2 separate regions of the Homo sapiens genome follow, and region 1 is linked to region 2. The links come from fine-mapping of genetic effects on gene expression. Tissue or cell type: whole blood. Region 2 holds a variant in brackets; the other region holds the start of a gene. All regions are shown on one strand. Distances are from middle to middle.

Region 1 (8,107 bases), 80 kb after region 2:
AAACAGAACTTTCAGCAATGATGAAACTACTATCTGTGCTATCCAATTCAGTAGCCACTAACCACACGTGGCTCTGGGCCACTTGAAATGCGGTGAGTGAGACGGAAGGACTGAATTTTAAATTTTCTTTTCTTTTAATTCATTACATTTAAATGTAAATAGCCACATGTAACTAGTGGCTACTGTATTGAACAGTTCAGCTGGCAACGTCTTTCTGTTCCTTCAATAAAATTGTAATCCTAATCAACCAATAATATTTTAAATTATCATCAAAATTAGTATAAGCCCCTGGCTGTGCCAAACTCAGTAAGCTTAAGACAAAATGAAAACAAACAAACAACAACAAAAAAAAACTAAAGAAAATGATTGCAGTGTATCATTTCCTGTAACGCTGTTCTGATTATCTAATTTACATTTCTATTATAATATGGCTTTGTGTATTTGGAAATCCGTGATTGTAGACAGATTTTGCCTTCAAAAAACCAGAATGTCACAGTCTCTTCCCTTAAGGTCTTAGAAAAATGAAAACGTGAACTTAGGGAAAGTTAACCTTGCAAGCTTCAATTTCCTCAGGGCTGAAGTGAAGATAATATAAGTACTCGCCTCTCATGAGGATTAAATTCAGATAATGCGTGCAAAATGTACAACAGTGCCTGGCAAAGGGTAAGCACTCAGCAAGTGGCAGCTATAATTATTTGTATTTTATTAACAATATTAAAATCAGTAATAAAGAGAACAGTGTTAATACAATGAAAGTTTACACTGAACAAAATTTTCCTAGGCCCAAACCCTTTGAATGTGTTTTCCAAGCCATGGTAAAGTGCCCTCGAGTAAAATACATCCTGGGGCCCTGACATCTTGACACCCACTGTCAACCTCCAGAGAGGCGATCACCCAGATGGGTATCACGAGTCACGAAATCACTCAGCCAATGTTTACTGTGTCCCTACCCTCTGGCAGGCACTGCGCTAGGCTTTTAAGGAGGAGGGAACAGTCCCCAAACACAGTGCAATGTCTCAAGACTGAGCTGTCTGCCATCTGACTCCTGCAAAGCTTGGTCAGCCCTGGGACACCTTGATGGGATGCAAAACATGCATCCTGGGGTCCCACTCAGACAGAAAAGTTCACTTCCCGTTTCCTAGATCAGCCAAGGCAAGCTTTGGCTGTTGGCACCACAGAGAGGGACTAAGTTATTAGGGGACCCGAGGGGCACAGGCCCATTTTCCCAGTCAGGACAATAAGAGGGGTGTTGACAGGCCATGTTTCTCACTGAGAGGCCAGATCACTTTCACAAGAGAGTCATTCTCTGAGTCTTAACAAAGCCAAATCTGACCTGCCCCTCAAAATAAACACAACCCCTTTCAGTAGCCGGCTGACCAAGCCGGTGAAATCCAAGGGGACTCTCCACCAAGTTAATATCAACCCTACCAATAGACCAGAAATCCCCCGGGAGTTTCTAGGCAGAAGCTTAGTAAAATTCTGTGGGGCTTGGGGTTATTTTTCTTTTTATAGAAAGCACTCAATCAATCTTCTTTCACAACCAAGGGTACATTCCCCTATGGAATTCCCTTCTCTGAAAATCTCTAAAAATAAAATATTCATCTGATCGTCTGCAATGATTTAAGTTTAAACCCATTTTCAGGCAGAGTCAGGGACTTCCTATGGCCCCTCCACCTATAAAAACATGTTCCCCACTGCCTCAGATTCCCTCTGGCCCCAGAAGAACACTAGTCAAACCATGCTCTTGACTTTAGGATAGGAAAGACAGGGCTGTAGTATCTGGAATCTCATACTTGTATTCTTTGCTGGTGAGACTGTAAAATGGTATAACCATGTTGGGAAAAGGTCTGGCAGTTTCTTTTCAGGTTTCCATATATCTCCTTTTTGACCCAGCAATTTACTACTAGGTGTTTACCCATGAGAAATGAGAACACATGTCCCTACAGAGACTTGTACACAAATGTTCACGGCAGCTTTGTTCACAATAACCAAAGAAAGAAAGAAAGAAACTAGAAGAAAGAAACTAAAATAATCCATGTATCCATTAACAGAATATACAAACAAACTGTGGAGTAAGACATACTCCGGAACATAAGTCAGCAATAAAAAAAGACCAAATCATGGATACGACATGGATGAATCTCAAAAATATGGTGAGCTTTACACAATATTGCAGAATTCCATTTACATGAAGTTCAAGAACAAGCCAAACTCACCTATGATGAGATACAGGGCAGTGGTTGCCACTGAGAGGGTGAGGGCAGAGAATGACTGAGAATGAGGATGAAGGCACCTGCTGGGGTGACAGTAATATTCTCTGTCTTGATAAGGACTAGGGTTACACAGGTGCATGCATCTGTCAAAACATTATGCAAATGGTACTTTCCATCTTTGCACATTTCACTATATGTATATAAATTTTATCTTAAGGAAACCATAAGCACATATTGAAGTCAAAATAATAAAATGTGTACTAAAATGTTTAGGAATGACCTGTACCAACATCTGTAATTTACTTTAAAGTGCATAAAACCATCAGCTGGACTTATGGATGGACACAGGGATGGCTGGATGGTTGGGGGAGGTGTGTAGTTAAGCAAAGATGGCAAAATGTGAATTAGACTCTAGGTGTGTATATTTAGGGGGTCACTGTTCTTGCAACTTTTCTATATCTTAAAAAATGGGATGGGGATAGAGTCACAGTGTCCTCTCCTTAGTCCACCAAGTTAGAAATTTGGCAAAGCACCATGCCCCACCAAGCCATGGGACCACATAGTTTCAATTCTGCTGAAAAGAGAAGACTGGAAGAACATAAGTAGCTTTACAGGAACTCACATCACTCATGCCAAAGATTTTCTGCTTGTTTCCCTACAGACAAAGCAATTATTTGAATGTAAGCCAAAAATTCCTGCTCAAGAGGGAGAAAAAGAACTCACTGACTTGTATTCCCAATTTATTATCTTTCAATTCCTGTACCAAATCTACTAGCTAACTGCACAACACTCCACTTCCATTTGCCCCATGTCCATACAGCCAAAAAGCAAACAAAGAAAAACCAACCCAGTGACTTGATATACAAATGCAGCCAGAGGATGACGTGCCAGCTCTGGGGCTTTGAATCACTCAGGCGGGCCAGAAACCCCACTGAAGGCAAAAGAGGATGCAGAGCTCAGTCTGAGGTTAGAGTGATTTCACTGAGGTTAGCACACACGCACCAAAGAGTCCCAAACAGCTTGCTTCGTAACCCCTCTCTGGGGTTTGGTGACATCTGGGGTCACTTGAACTTCGTTGGGATTCAGCTGTTCAGAGATACAAATTAGGAATCCCGGCAGCAGAGAGGCCCTACCCACAGGCCCAGAGGTCGCTCACATTACACCCGGCTTCCTTCCTGGCAAGGCCTTAACTTATCCTGAGATGACACACGATGGCAGGGGTTGGAAGATGCCTAGTCTAGTTGAGCGCCCAGCTCCTGAAACAGCTGTACCGACTACAAGGGTTCCAGCACATGAGTTGCTGGAAACTGGGGTGACCACTGACAGAGATTGAGCCAGACTTTTTTTTTAAAAAAGTACTTCTTGTTTGTTTGTTTTAAGCCCCCGAAGAAACTCACTGACACCACCCAGCGTCCCTAGGGATCACCCATAACCACACAGGGCAGCTGAGGGCAAGCACAGAGTCACAGACAGACAGCAGGGAGCGTGCCTGGTTCTACAACCTTGGCCTCCACGCGGTTCTTGCTGCCAAAGGCAGCGACACCGGAGGTGAAGGGCACCAGCCCTGGCCTAGGACTGGGGTGCGCGTGCCTGACAACGGGGCTTCCCGAAATACACAACCACCTCCTCCTCGCCCAGACCCATATCCATCCTGGCGTCCCTTGAGTCTAGAGAAGTGGGTTAAGACAAGGGAAGAAAATCCCTTACAGAAGAGGAGATCCCCGTTTTCAGTGCTGGGGACTCTCGGCACCCGCGTCCCTGTGCTTCTGGTGGTTCCGGCGCTTCCTCGGAGCGCGCGGCATGTCTGCTCCTACACGTCCAGCACCTCTGTCCCCAGAGCAAACCCACCTCCCAGGGCACACGCAGAGGGGCAGTCAGGCACCGCCTCCACCCTGCCCCACCCAGGCCGCGCGCACCCCGGAAACCTGGACTCCGCGACCAGCTCCCTCCTGTTCTTTTCCGAGGACCCCAGCGGCAGTGTGTCCTGGACCCACCTGTAGCCTCCAAGCTCCCCCACCTCTGCGTCCTTCCTAGGCGCTTCTGAGCCTGCAGAGCCTACGACCCCCAACAGGCTGCTCCGAAGTGCCTCTCCCTACATCGCTCCAGGAATGACTCCCCTACACCCGTTCCCCGCAAAAAAAAGTTGGCCCAAGATCCAGGCGTCCCAAGGATCAGCCCAGGTCCCCATCCGACGCGGGCCAGGGGGTGCTGCTCTGGCAGCTCCGGAGCCCCGGCAAAGAGCAACCTGCAGGGAGGCGCCACGCGCGGTTCCCACTACCCGCCAGAGACCCGGTCCATGGGGCCAAACGGAGGGGCCTGTGCCGGTCGACACCCCAAGCCCTGTCGCGCCCCCCCCGCCGCCTACCGTATGGGACCGGCGGAGGAGAAGGCGCGGTCGCGGGCTCCCTGAGGCAGCGTGTTCCGTCCCGGGAGGAAAGTTTGTGCCATACAGAGGAGGCGGCGCGGGGAGGACTTGGGCGCCGGTGGGTGGAGGCGTGGGCGGTGGCGCCGCGTGGTCGTGTGTCTGTCCCTCCGGCGATCGGTGCGTCTGTCCCTCGCCGGAGCCCGCGGCCGCCGCGCTCTCGCTCGCTGCGCCCAGCGCCCGGCGCGCTCCGGCTCCAGCCCCGACGCGCCCCCGCCGCCGCCGCCGCGCGTCCGCCGGCTACACTTCCTCTTCCTCTGAACTCATGTGCAAAATATGCTACGCTGCATCTTCAGGGAAAGCCTCGCGGCCCCTGACAGCAGCCGCTGGAGCGGTGGGCCCGCCCAGCTCTCCCCGCGCCCCCTCGGAGTTCCGCCCGGTCACCTCCACGCGGCCGAGCTGCAAGCGACCCTGGCAGCCTCAGAACCCAGGGGTCAGGGGCTCATCGATCCTCCCTCCCAGCCCCTCCTAATCAAGGTTGTGTGCTGTCAGGAAGAGCGCCTGGGAGACAAGGATCCTTCAAGATTTGAGCCAGGATGCTGAAAGGGCGACTGCCATCAAGGTGCTGATGGCTGGGGGTGGGGTTGGGGCCGACTTGAGAGAGGACCATTTCTCGACCCCATTCCACAGGTGGGAGCATCCCTAAACATCTCAGGTGCTGCTGAAATTCTCTCTTGCGAGTTAGTGCTTCAGGGAAGGGTAATGCCACTGTCTCCGTTGCCATCCCTTGGTCTACCTACTTAAGATGTCCAGAGGTTTGAGAAGATCTGGAGAATCACCTTGCGTGGCAACTTGAGGCACCCAGGGAGAAAATTATATAAAGAGTGAAGCACTAGTAAACCAGGCTGCATTAGTAAAGTGAAGATGTGAGGCAAGGAGCCATTAGAAAATATTTTCTTCGTAAAACTAAACCAAGCAGAATTACAGTGTAGGGGTTAAGAGGGGGAACTTTAAAGTCAAATAATCAGGGTTGGATTCCTGGCTTTAGTACTTACTGGCTGTGTGACTTTGGGTAAGTGACTTAACTGCTCTGCGCCTATTTGTCACATGGCACTTCTTCGTGGGTTATTATATGTAAAGTGTTTAGCAACCACTCTATAACTTAGCTATTATCATTATTTTAAGGGGGCTAGAACAAGAAGGGTGAGATAATTTAATTAATTATCTCCATTTTCTAATTGGGCAAAGAAGACCCTGTGTGGGCAAAGTTAAGCACTGGAGCACACAGGGTGGAGGGCTGGTTTAGGGGCCCAGCAGTGTTTCGATGAGGTCCTTCTGGCACTAATAACACTCCTCCAGCAAGTAAGGAAGCACTATTTTGTTTTCAGGGACTCTTCCTGTTACCACAGCTTCTCAGAGATTTTCTTCCTTATTTTCTCTTTCCATAGCCTTTCTAGTTCTGTTTTGCTCCCCCTCCCTCACCACTGTTTTGTTTTTATTTGTTTTTCTCCTTTCCCTTTCCACCCCACCTTTTCCTGGTGTCACACTCACCACCACTATCCCCAGTGTCCCCCATTTCCCCCCTACACTTGAGCTTGCCACATGAAAGAAAATAAGACCAGGTGACCACGTAAGTCCAGGTTCAGACAGTAGTGCGCAGGGACATTTGCTCAGGGGCATCACCAGAGGTTGTGAACACCCATTTATGAAGCCAAAGGGAGGGGTCTTCATGCTATCTATCTGCCCGAGGCCTTGAATTGCTGCAAGTCAGGGTCCATCCAAAATCTTTCTGATCCTTTGCTGGTCACTAGGCCACAGAAAGAAAATAAAATTGATAGGTGTTAACCGGTAGGCATTTAAAAGAAGATAAAGGAAAAAGGAGGGTGGGGGTGGGGGAATGCAGCATAACCTAGTTGCAGTGTGCTTGATTTCTTTTAAGCAAATCATTTTCACTCTATAAAACTTTTGCACACCGTTGTGTTTTTTGTGCTTTTTTTTTTTAAGACACCAGTGCTTGAGGTTAATATGCTATTCTGATTGCTTCCATTTTCTTCCACTCAATATTTTCCCGAGTGCTAATAATCATGGGCAAATGTCTTAAATGACTTTTTTCCCTGCTTGGATCTGCATTTTTGAGGGTTTTCTAGAACTCCTGATCTTCTTGATATTCTGATGCTTCCTACTGGCACATAGTAGGTGTTCAGTAAATATGTGTGGAATGAGTGGATGAGCCAATAGCATGCAGATCTTTCAAGGCTCTTCTTAACCTGCATTCAGCAATTATCCAGGGTGTTCCAATTCTCTTTCACCTGGAATATTTAATGAGGAGCCAAATGTTGGATTCACTTGTGTTCTGTAGAGAGCTGCCTGGATTTTCCACTTGACTGCTATGGACTGGCCAGCCATGGGAGAGACCCTGGGCAGCTGGGTCTCACTTCTAACTGACCTTGCCTACCCAGCCCCAACCCCAAAGATGCTGGGACTGTATCCTAGTGGGTTACCTTGGCAACCTCACAATGTCATCTGTTAGAATGTCCTAGGGCGGCAGCTTTTAATTCTATCACAGCGGTCTCATCGGGGGTCATGTAATAGTGCTGTTTTTTCTCTGCTCACACTTCCTCCCCCTGTGATTTAACACTAAGTACTCGGGGAGGAGCTGAACACGGGAAAAACCAAGCTATTACTGCATGACAGGTCACAGATGGCCCCAGAACTGGGGTCCCGAGTGTTCACAGTCAATAAGACGCAGGTCCCAAGCTAATGGGGAAGCTGGATCTCCTCACACCCCCTGTGGAAAGAAGAGGAGTTAAGCCAGCCTAGGCAAGTGTAAGAAGCTGCTGTGGCCAGACTGCACGATTCTTGTAAAAGCTCAGTTAAAGGAACCCCCCGCTGGAATAATTCTTTCTTGGCCTCAGCAGCACCACCCCACTCTGGAGATGATTAAGGCCATGGGTACCAGCAGCCGGAGCAATTTCGCTGCATCCTAACTATGCTGAGGCTTGGAGGGAAGGAGAATCCCAGCTAACCTATTCTGCTCACCTTCTTCCCACCAGACCCCATCCCCACAATTTCACTTCACTTAGGTCCACCCTGCTCCTAACTTAGCCCAAAATAATTCAATTCCCCCTCTCTGCAGAGAGTAATCACAGTTCATAGCAGAAATGGATCAAACAAAAGCTTTGGAACCTGAAGAGCTATTGTCCTAATTGTTTATGTACAGGACCACGAAACCCAGACCTTACACTCGCCAGCTGAACAGCAGAGTTTCAGGGCTGGTGGGAGACAGAACTAGACTTATCTATGCCCTGGAGGTGCAATAATTATTCATCTTTATCATCACAGTTAATATTTTAATGGGTTTGCAGCCACAGTGAGCTCACAGTTTGGCCAGCTGCTCTGTACTAAACAGTTATAGGAAGCTGGCCCTGCATCCGGTGACAATCGTGCCTGTAAGGAGCCACGGTGGCAGGGGCCTGAGCTCTGTGCCCCAAGCCAGTGGTTTTGGAGGAGGCCCCTGCCCTTTGTTCATGGT
Region 2 (8,107 bases):
AAAACACACCAATGACGCCCCTAGCTCCATGTGTGTACAACGACAATTCAACAGCTGAAAAATGGCCAGCACCATGCATTTTTGTACTGCAGTTACATCTATAACCATAAAACAACCTAGAATTAAACCCACACTCATGAAACATCAGAAGTGACGTTTTAATAACTGACTTCTGTTAGCCATCAAGTTTCAAGATCTTTAGCAACTCATTCTAAGGAAAACTACTTGAAAAAAATGAAGGATCACTTAACTATACTTAGAATTCAGAGTGAGTGCAACTATATTGTCTATTAAAAATCACTAAGTGTTCCAAAGAAAGAGTTGAGAAAATGAAGTACAAACTCTCTTTCTACTTATTCACTAAGTATTTCATATTCAGCTATTCATTCTTGAGTCAAAGTAACTTGAGTCAAAGTAACTGACTTGACTAAATTCAATACACTTAGAATTAAGAACAGTTTACAGTTAGATGTGTGGCTAGGCCTGCCATGGTAAAATGAAATGGCAGTTATTAGAATTTTCAGAAGAAAAGATCAGGTAATTTTTCAGGGATGTAAGTGAAATCTGTCAAAATGGCAGTGAGCTCAGAGGAATGTTACTGCACTTGAGAACTACTTTTGGAATGACTCATTAATAATTTAGTTAGACTGTCAACGATGCTCTCCAATTACTCAAATACTACTAGAAAACATTTCATTAGGAGATTTAAATAAACTCTTCCTGCCTCATGCTCATTACTCCCCATGTTTGCCCAAAAGAAATCAGGCCCAAGTTAAAAGCTGCCCCTCCAGAAACATTTCCTTGGTTTCCCTTCCAGTGAGAGGTGGCATCTCCTTCTCCCAAACTCCTGTGGCATGAGGCACATATCTCATTTACTTAATTAGACTGCAAGTGCTTGGAAGGCAGGCTCCACATTCAACTGAGCCTGGCATTTGCACTCTCTAACTTCCCACCACATAGAGCTCCTAGCACAATACTCTGAAAAGAGTACTCACTCAGCAAGTGTTAGTGAATGAGTGAGGGGATAAATGCAGGCTTGAGGGGTTCCGTCTGGTGTTTCTGGCATATCCCAAAGCCCAGTTATTTGTTAAAAATTTTATGTGAACCCTCCAAACACATTAGGTTGATATCGAAGTTTCACAGAGTCATCTCATGGTGATTCTTGGTAATGAAGTTCACTTGGGTCAACAATAATCTAGAATGTGTATCTACATCTCTTTCAATGTGCTCCACTTGAAAAATATTAACCAAGTATTTCTTTCTCTTTTAAAAGCTAACTCATTTCATTTAACAGCATCTATAACTGTCAGAACTTTGGCAGACTTTGTGAAAAGTATCACTTTAACTGTCTGAATTAAAAATTAATCACAAAAGTCTTCCTTTGTTTTGTTTTTACTACTTAAACTCCCTATTGATAAAGAAAAAGTCCGTTTTTTTTTTGTTGTTGTTGTTTCTTGAGACAGGATCTCATTCTGTCACCCAGGCTGAAGTGCAATAACACAGTCACATCCCAGGAGCCTCCAGCTCGTGGGCTCAAGTAATCCTCCCACCTCAGCCTCCCGGGTAGCTGGGACTACAGGCGTGCGCCACTACACCCAGCTAATTTTTAAAATTTTTAGTAGCTACTAGGTCTCTCTACTTTGCCCAGGCTGGTCTGGAACTTCTGAGCTCAAGAGAATCTTCTGCCTTGGTCTCCCAAAGTGCTGGGATTATAGGTGTGAGCCACTGCACCTGGCCTTGATGTTTTTTTGTTTGCTTATTTTTAAGATCGTTGGAGTCTTTTCCCCATAATACAAAAAAAATGCAGTTATTGCATTTGCTAGGAGAGAAAATTCCTGTACTTTAAAATTATATTTTACAATGACTGCTTCCAACCTCCACCACTCCTCCCACCTAATACCATTGGGGCTAGAAGTGGGGATGATCCTCTTGATCATTTTTGCCTCATTTTACATGATAAATTATCAAACTTTTGCATTTTTTTAAAAAAGGCAGTTCCAAAGACTCAACACAAAGTTACCTAAGGAATTTCCTTCTCTGGATCTGCTTGTCCAGGAGTTGAAATGTTCATTAAGTTCATCAGGCAGGCAGTTCAGGAACTCTGGATGAAAGTCAGCTCAAACCCAAGGAGACTGCCAACTTCCCTTTCTTGAAAACCCTCCTGCATACAAAGTCTCATTCCTCTCAACAGTTTGCTCATTTTTGTCTTCTGGAAAGTAAGTTCATTTGTTCATGCTACGTTAGTGGAAGTAAACAACCCCTACTGAGCCCCCAGCTTCACTGCTGGCTTATAATGCACTATTCCCCAAAGTGGTGGTTCTTATTTCTGAAGACGGGCTTCCTCACCCATCTTGTCCCATCAGATAACTTAGAGTTTGGTGCAAGCCTTGCAAATCATGTAGTAACAGCCCCTCATTGTAGCAGCTAGAATACGGAGGCCGAGAAAGATCCATCGATGTGCCCCTTGCACGACACTGCTTACTAGTAGCCAAGTGCAGCCTAGAACGCAGGCCTCCTGGCCACGAGTTCTGTGTTCTTTCTTACCTAGCCTGGTGCTTACAGCTCTCCTAGGAGTAAAGTGGCAAGCCCCAATAGTGTTGCTGAGTGCCAGGCATGAAGCCAGGCAAGAATTAGGTCCTCCACACACTTGCTACTCAAAGTGCGTGCCACGGACCATCAGCATCTGCCCCATCTGGAAACAAGTTAGAAATGTAGAGTCCCAGGCCTCCCCTGAGACCTGCTATATCAGACTCTGCTCTTTAACCATATCCCCAGGAGACTCACAAGCACATTAAAGTTTGAGAAGTGTTGCTCCACAGCAGGGAGAAAAAAAAAAAAAGATACACCTTCACTTTTTGAGTTAAGCTCAGGCCAAGTCCTGAGCTCATGTCACCGCCTATGGCAGATCACACTGAAGGATGTGCCAGTGATCTGACCCAAATGGACTTGTCTCCTTTAAACACTAAGGCCACTCGGATAATCTGCAGAATAGAATCCCTGGAGCCCAGTGGATGCCTTATAGAATCCATACAACTCATTTGTCTGTTTTGTTTCCTTGCTGAAATTCTGATTTACTTACTGACTACTGAGGGGTAAAATGGGGGAAAGGTTGAGTAATAAAAGTACTTCTTTATGGAAGATCAAAGATATCCTCCCCCACTTTCTTTTCCTAAAGTGGTTCTCCACAAGAATTGTGGGTAAAGGAACTCAGCACGTGCTTCATGCCAGGATTAAGAATGCAGGTACGGGAGACAGCCTTCCTGGGAGCAAGGCAGAACTCTGCTTGCTGCCATCCGTGTGACCTTGACAACTCAACATTTGTGTCTCAGTTTTCTCACCTTTAAAATGGGAACAAAGATGACACTTATTTCATAGCCATATGATACAGATGAAATGATAATGATCAAGCCTCACATACAGTGAGTGCTCACTAAATATAAGCTACTGTCATTATACATATCCTATGTGTCAGTGTCACTCAAAACCACTGTGGCCCCCAATCTTCTCATGATTGACCCAGATAATGATCAACAGCCAATCAACCTAAAGGAACCAATAATGGACTGGGCGTGGTGGCTCACACCTCTAATCCCAGCACTTTGAGAGGCCTATGTGGGAAACTCTCTTGAGCCCAGAAGTTCCAGACCAGTCTAGGCAACATGGCGAAACCCGGTCTCTACCCAAAATAAAAAAATTAGCCAGGCATGGTGGCGTGCACCTGTAGTCCCAGTTACCTGGGAGGCTGAGGTGGGAGGATGGCTTAAGCCTGAGAGGCAAAGGTTGCAGTGAGCTGAGATCATGCCACTGTGCTCCAGCCTGGGTGACAGAGTGAGACCCCATCTCAAGGAAATAAAAAAGAAAAGAAAAGAAACCAATATGCAGCCAGGCTCAGTGGCTCACACCCATAATCCCAGTGGTTTGGGAGGCCAAGGTGGGAGGATCGCTTGAGGCCAGGATTTCAAGATCAGCCTAGGCAACATAGCGAGACCTTGTTTCTACAGAAAAAAAAAAGAGAGAGAGAGAGAAAGACAAACTAATACACATAAAAGGCAGACACTGAGAAAAGTCTTGCCCTACCAAAACATGTGTGAATTCTGGGTTCGAGCAAAAACATGCACCACCTTTCACTTTGAATTCTAATGTGTGTTGACGTAATGTGTGTTGATGTAGAGTAAGAGCCCCAGAGCTTGATCAACCATGAAGAAATAAAGGAAAGGAAAGGAAAGAGGAGTCAGTCTTAGACACGCAACCTCATGCCTCACAGCTGTCCCTTATGAGCACACCAGCCAAATGCTTTGTCTACCTGCAAAGTGACTTTAAAAGGAGAGAACAAGGAGGAGCTGCTCTGTACTCCCTTTTTAAAATGTGGCACATGCTGTCATTCCTTCTATGATAGTTGGCCAAAAGACAAATCTGATTTCCTTTCCCAGACTTCATTTTAATTTTTATTTTTATGAAAGCAGGAAAAACATACTGCTCTCTCCATCCCATCCTCACTGTTTTTTTTTTTTAAAAAAATTAATATTGTTCCTTTTGAAAGACTAACCCCACTTCTCTTTTCTTAATTAGGCTCAACTGAAATATAGGCATAAGCATTCAACTGGGCAAGCCAAACTGAAAAACATCCCCAAGCCCTGAAAATCTAAATCAAGACCAAACCAATTATAGCATTTTATTTAGGTGGTGTTTATTTTTTGTATTTTTTTAACTGTCAAGTGATTGACAGAATTTATGGTAGGCGCAAAATGTTAAAGTATTTCTAGACTTTGCGGGAAGACATTAAGTTTGTCTATAGCCTCTAAACAAAATTATTTGTTTTCCAGTCATGCCTTTCAGTTTAAAAGTATTGCACTTTTACTAGCCACATCATTCTGGGCATATGCTTCTTCTGAGGAGACATTTTTCTAGCTGAGTTTAATCCAGTGAGTTAAAAGAGGGAAAGAATGTAAAATGGAACTCTCTACTTGCAGTTGGACATGCATTTGTTTTTCATCGCAGGATGCTAGGAAAGAAACCTCTCTGGTTGTCTAACT[G/T]TTTGCCTCACCTGTCTGAGGGCTGAGGCCCTGAGGACAGCATGCAAATTTCAACCCCCAACCCCATCCTCTCACTTCCCCTCCTCTATTGAGCATAACTTAGCCGCAACAGGATGCTACCCATTCACCCGTGGAGGCCTTACCTGTCGGTTTTCTTGATCAGGATGGCTCTAAAGATGTGCTCCAGGGGCGTCTTCTCCCGCTCATGGGTGGGCTGCACGAAGGGGTGCAGGGCCGCCAGCGAGAAGCCCTGCTGGTACAGCTCCAGGAGCTGGGCGGGCAGGTCACGCAGGGAGGCCAGCCTCACTGCTGAGGACCCAGGGAGCTCCGCTGGAGTGGAGAGAGGAGAGGCTCATCAAAGACCCATCACAACGCCCACTCAGCCCTGCCCAAACCCCTCTTCCCTTGCCCTCGGGGAGGATCCTCTAGGTCACTGCTAAAATGAGTTTGTCCCAGTTTTTACTGTCTTCAAACAGACTTTATAAGCAGCCTGTCGTTTTCCAAATCACCCAAAGGCATTAATAATTGGATGTCGGCCAGGCGTGATGGCTCAGGCCTATAATCCCAGCACTCTGAGAGGCCGAGGCAGATGGATCGCTTGAGCCGAGAAGTTTGAGACCAGCCTGGGCAACATAGTAAAACTCGGTCTCTCTTAAACAAACAAACAAACAAACAAACAAACAAACAAAAACAAAAAAACCCCCTCAAAATTAGCCAGTGCTTGTGGTCCTGGCTACTCAGGAGGCTGAGGTGGGAAGATCGCTTGAGCTGGAAATGGGGAGGTTTGCAGTGAGCCATGATAGGGCCACTGCACTCTAGCCTGGGCAACAGAGCAAGCCACTGTCTCAAAAATGAAATAAAATAAAATAATAATGGACTGTCTTAGATCTAGAGTCGTCTTATCAGTGATCACAATGAAAAAGTCATTTCCACCCTCTAAAAAAAAACACACAGAAATAAAGAAAGAAAGGAAGAAGGGAAGGGAAAAGAAGAAAAATACATTGAGCAAATATAAAAATACTAGGTGGCAAAAAGCAGCATAAACAAAGTCAAAAGACAAACTGGAACAAAATTTCTGTGACCCTTAAGACAAAGGGCTAATTTCCTTAAATTTGCAAAACACTCCCCACCCCAAAATAATTTTTAAACGGGAAAAATATATGAATAGGCAATTGCCTTAAAAGTGTAAAAGGCTAACCAATATTTGAAAACACACTTTAATTCAGCATTAGAATTACACAAATAAAAACCAGGAATATTTTCACCTATTGAATTATTTTAAAATTTGGATTTTTAATTTATTTATTTTTGAGAAGGGCAAACAACGTTCAAAAGTCAAAAGGTACAAATGTGTATTCAGTGAAAAGTCTACATCCTAGCCCTATCCTCTACCTCCTACATTTATTTCCTTAGAGGAAATCAGTATTATCTTTTTGTGTGTATATGCATTAACAATCAAAGAATTCATACAAAAGTGAACAGGTCTATATATTTCCCTCCTCTTCTACACAAATGTCAGCATAACATTACACACCTAGCTTTTTAGAATCAATTTTTATCAATTAACAGTATACTTTTCGGCCAGGGGCAGTGGCTCACGCCTGTTATCCCCGCACTTTGGGAGGCCAAGGTAGGCGGATCACTTGAGGTCAGGAGTTTGAGACCAGCCTGGCCAACATGATGAAACCCCATCTCTGCTAAAAATATAAAAAATTAGTCCGGTGTGGTGGTGCATGCCTGTAATCCCAGCTACTCGGGAGGCTGAGGCGGAAGAATCTCTTGAACCTGGGAGGCGAAGGTTGCAGTGAGCCGAGATTGCGCCACTGCACTCCAGCCTGGGCAACAAGAGCTAAACTCCGTCTCAAAAAGCAAAAAAACAAAACAAAACAGTATACTTTTCTTAAGAGACCATTTCATAGCAGTACACAGAGTGCTTTCTCATTCTTTTCTACAGATCCATTGTGTGATATACCATGGAGTATGCAAACTTTTGCTCTTACAAGTAATCTTTTAGTGAAAAATCTCATTCCTACATGATTTTGCATGTGTGCGCTTATAGTACATATACAAAATAAATTCCTAGATGTGGAATTGCTGGGTTAAAAATATATGCATTGTGTGCCTGTATCAAAACATCTCATGTACCCTATAAATATATACACCTACTATGTACCCACAAAAAGTAAATAAATAAAAAATCAGAGATGTAAATATATATATATATATATATATATATATCACACACATATGTATGTGTGCATTGTAATTTTTTCAGCTAGTGCTATTTCCCCCATAGAGTATTATGGATTTATCTGCCATCAGTGATGTATAAAGTTATTTCTTTTCCCATACTCTGACAATTCTCAGTGGAAAAAAAAAGATCCCTGTGACATGGTAACTTATATTTATCTTATTATGTAATTTGTATTTTTTCTTATTAAACATTTCATATTTAAATGCTGTGTCTCCTTGTCTGTGAACTGTCTGTCCATTATCTTTGCCTCGTGTCCTATTTAGTCATTGGGCTTTTTTTCTATTGGTTTGTAAGAACTCTTTACATATTAGGAAATTTAGTTTTTGATGTATCTGCCCCCAATTTGTTGCTTGCCTTTTGACTTTGCATATAGTGGGTTTTGCCATGAAAAAAAAAATTTTTTTTTTTTTTTTAAGACAAAGTCTCTCTCTGTTGCCCAGGCTGGAGTGCGGTGGTGCTATCCCCGCTCACTGCAAACTCTACCTCCTGGGTTCAAGTGATTCCATGAAAAACTTTTTAAATGAAGCTGAATTTACCAATCTTGCTTTCAATGGCTTCTGAGTTTTGTGTCATAGCAGAAAGACCTGGGATTATAAAACAATTCTCTTGTGAATTCCCATAATACATATTTCATTTTTTGCATATAAATCTTTTATCGATTTGGAATTTATCCCATGTAAAGTGTGCAATATGAATTGAACACCCCCCCACCACAGGGGTTTATCCATTTTTCCTCATTGATTTGAGATGCCATATATCATATGCCACTTATCATTTATTATATTCCCAAATATGAGTTTATGACTGTGATCCATTAATC

The links. PIP is the estimated chance that this variant, and not a neighbour inherited with it, causes the effect.
Region 1: RFTN1 starts here. The variant in region 2 is fine-mapped to the expression of RFTN1 in whole blood (TOPMed, PIP above 0.99).

What each region holds. Positions count from the first base shown.
Region 1 is chr3:16,508,864-16,516,970 of GRCh38, forward strand. It overlaps RFTN1 (raftlin, lipid raft linker 1), which reads right to left and starts at 4,836. Exons shown (of 10, transcript NM_015150.2): 1 at 4,579-4,836. RefSeq lists enhancers at 1,388-1,547, 3,276-3,685, 4,236-4,315, 7,622-8,107 and silencers at 4,606-4,965, 4,996-5,065, 6,219-6,394, 7,002-7,051.
Region 2 is chr3:16,428,675-16,436,781 of GRCh38, forward strand. It overlaps RFTN1 (raftlin, lipid raft linker 1), which reads right to left. Exons shown (of 10, transcript NM_015150.2): 3 at 5,177-5,363. Among named protein-coding and RNA genes, the nearest start is that of RFTN1, 81 kb to the right of the region's middle. RefSeq lists a silencer at 5,051-5,180. The variant G/T (reference allele first, on the strand shown) is at 5,034.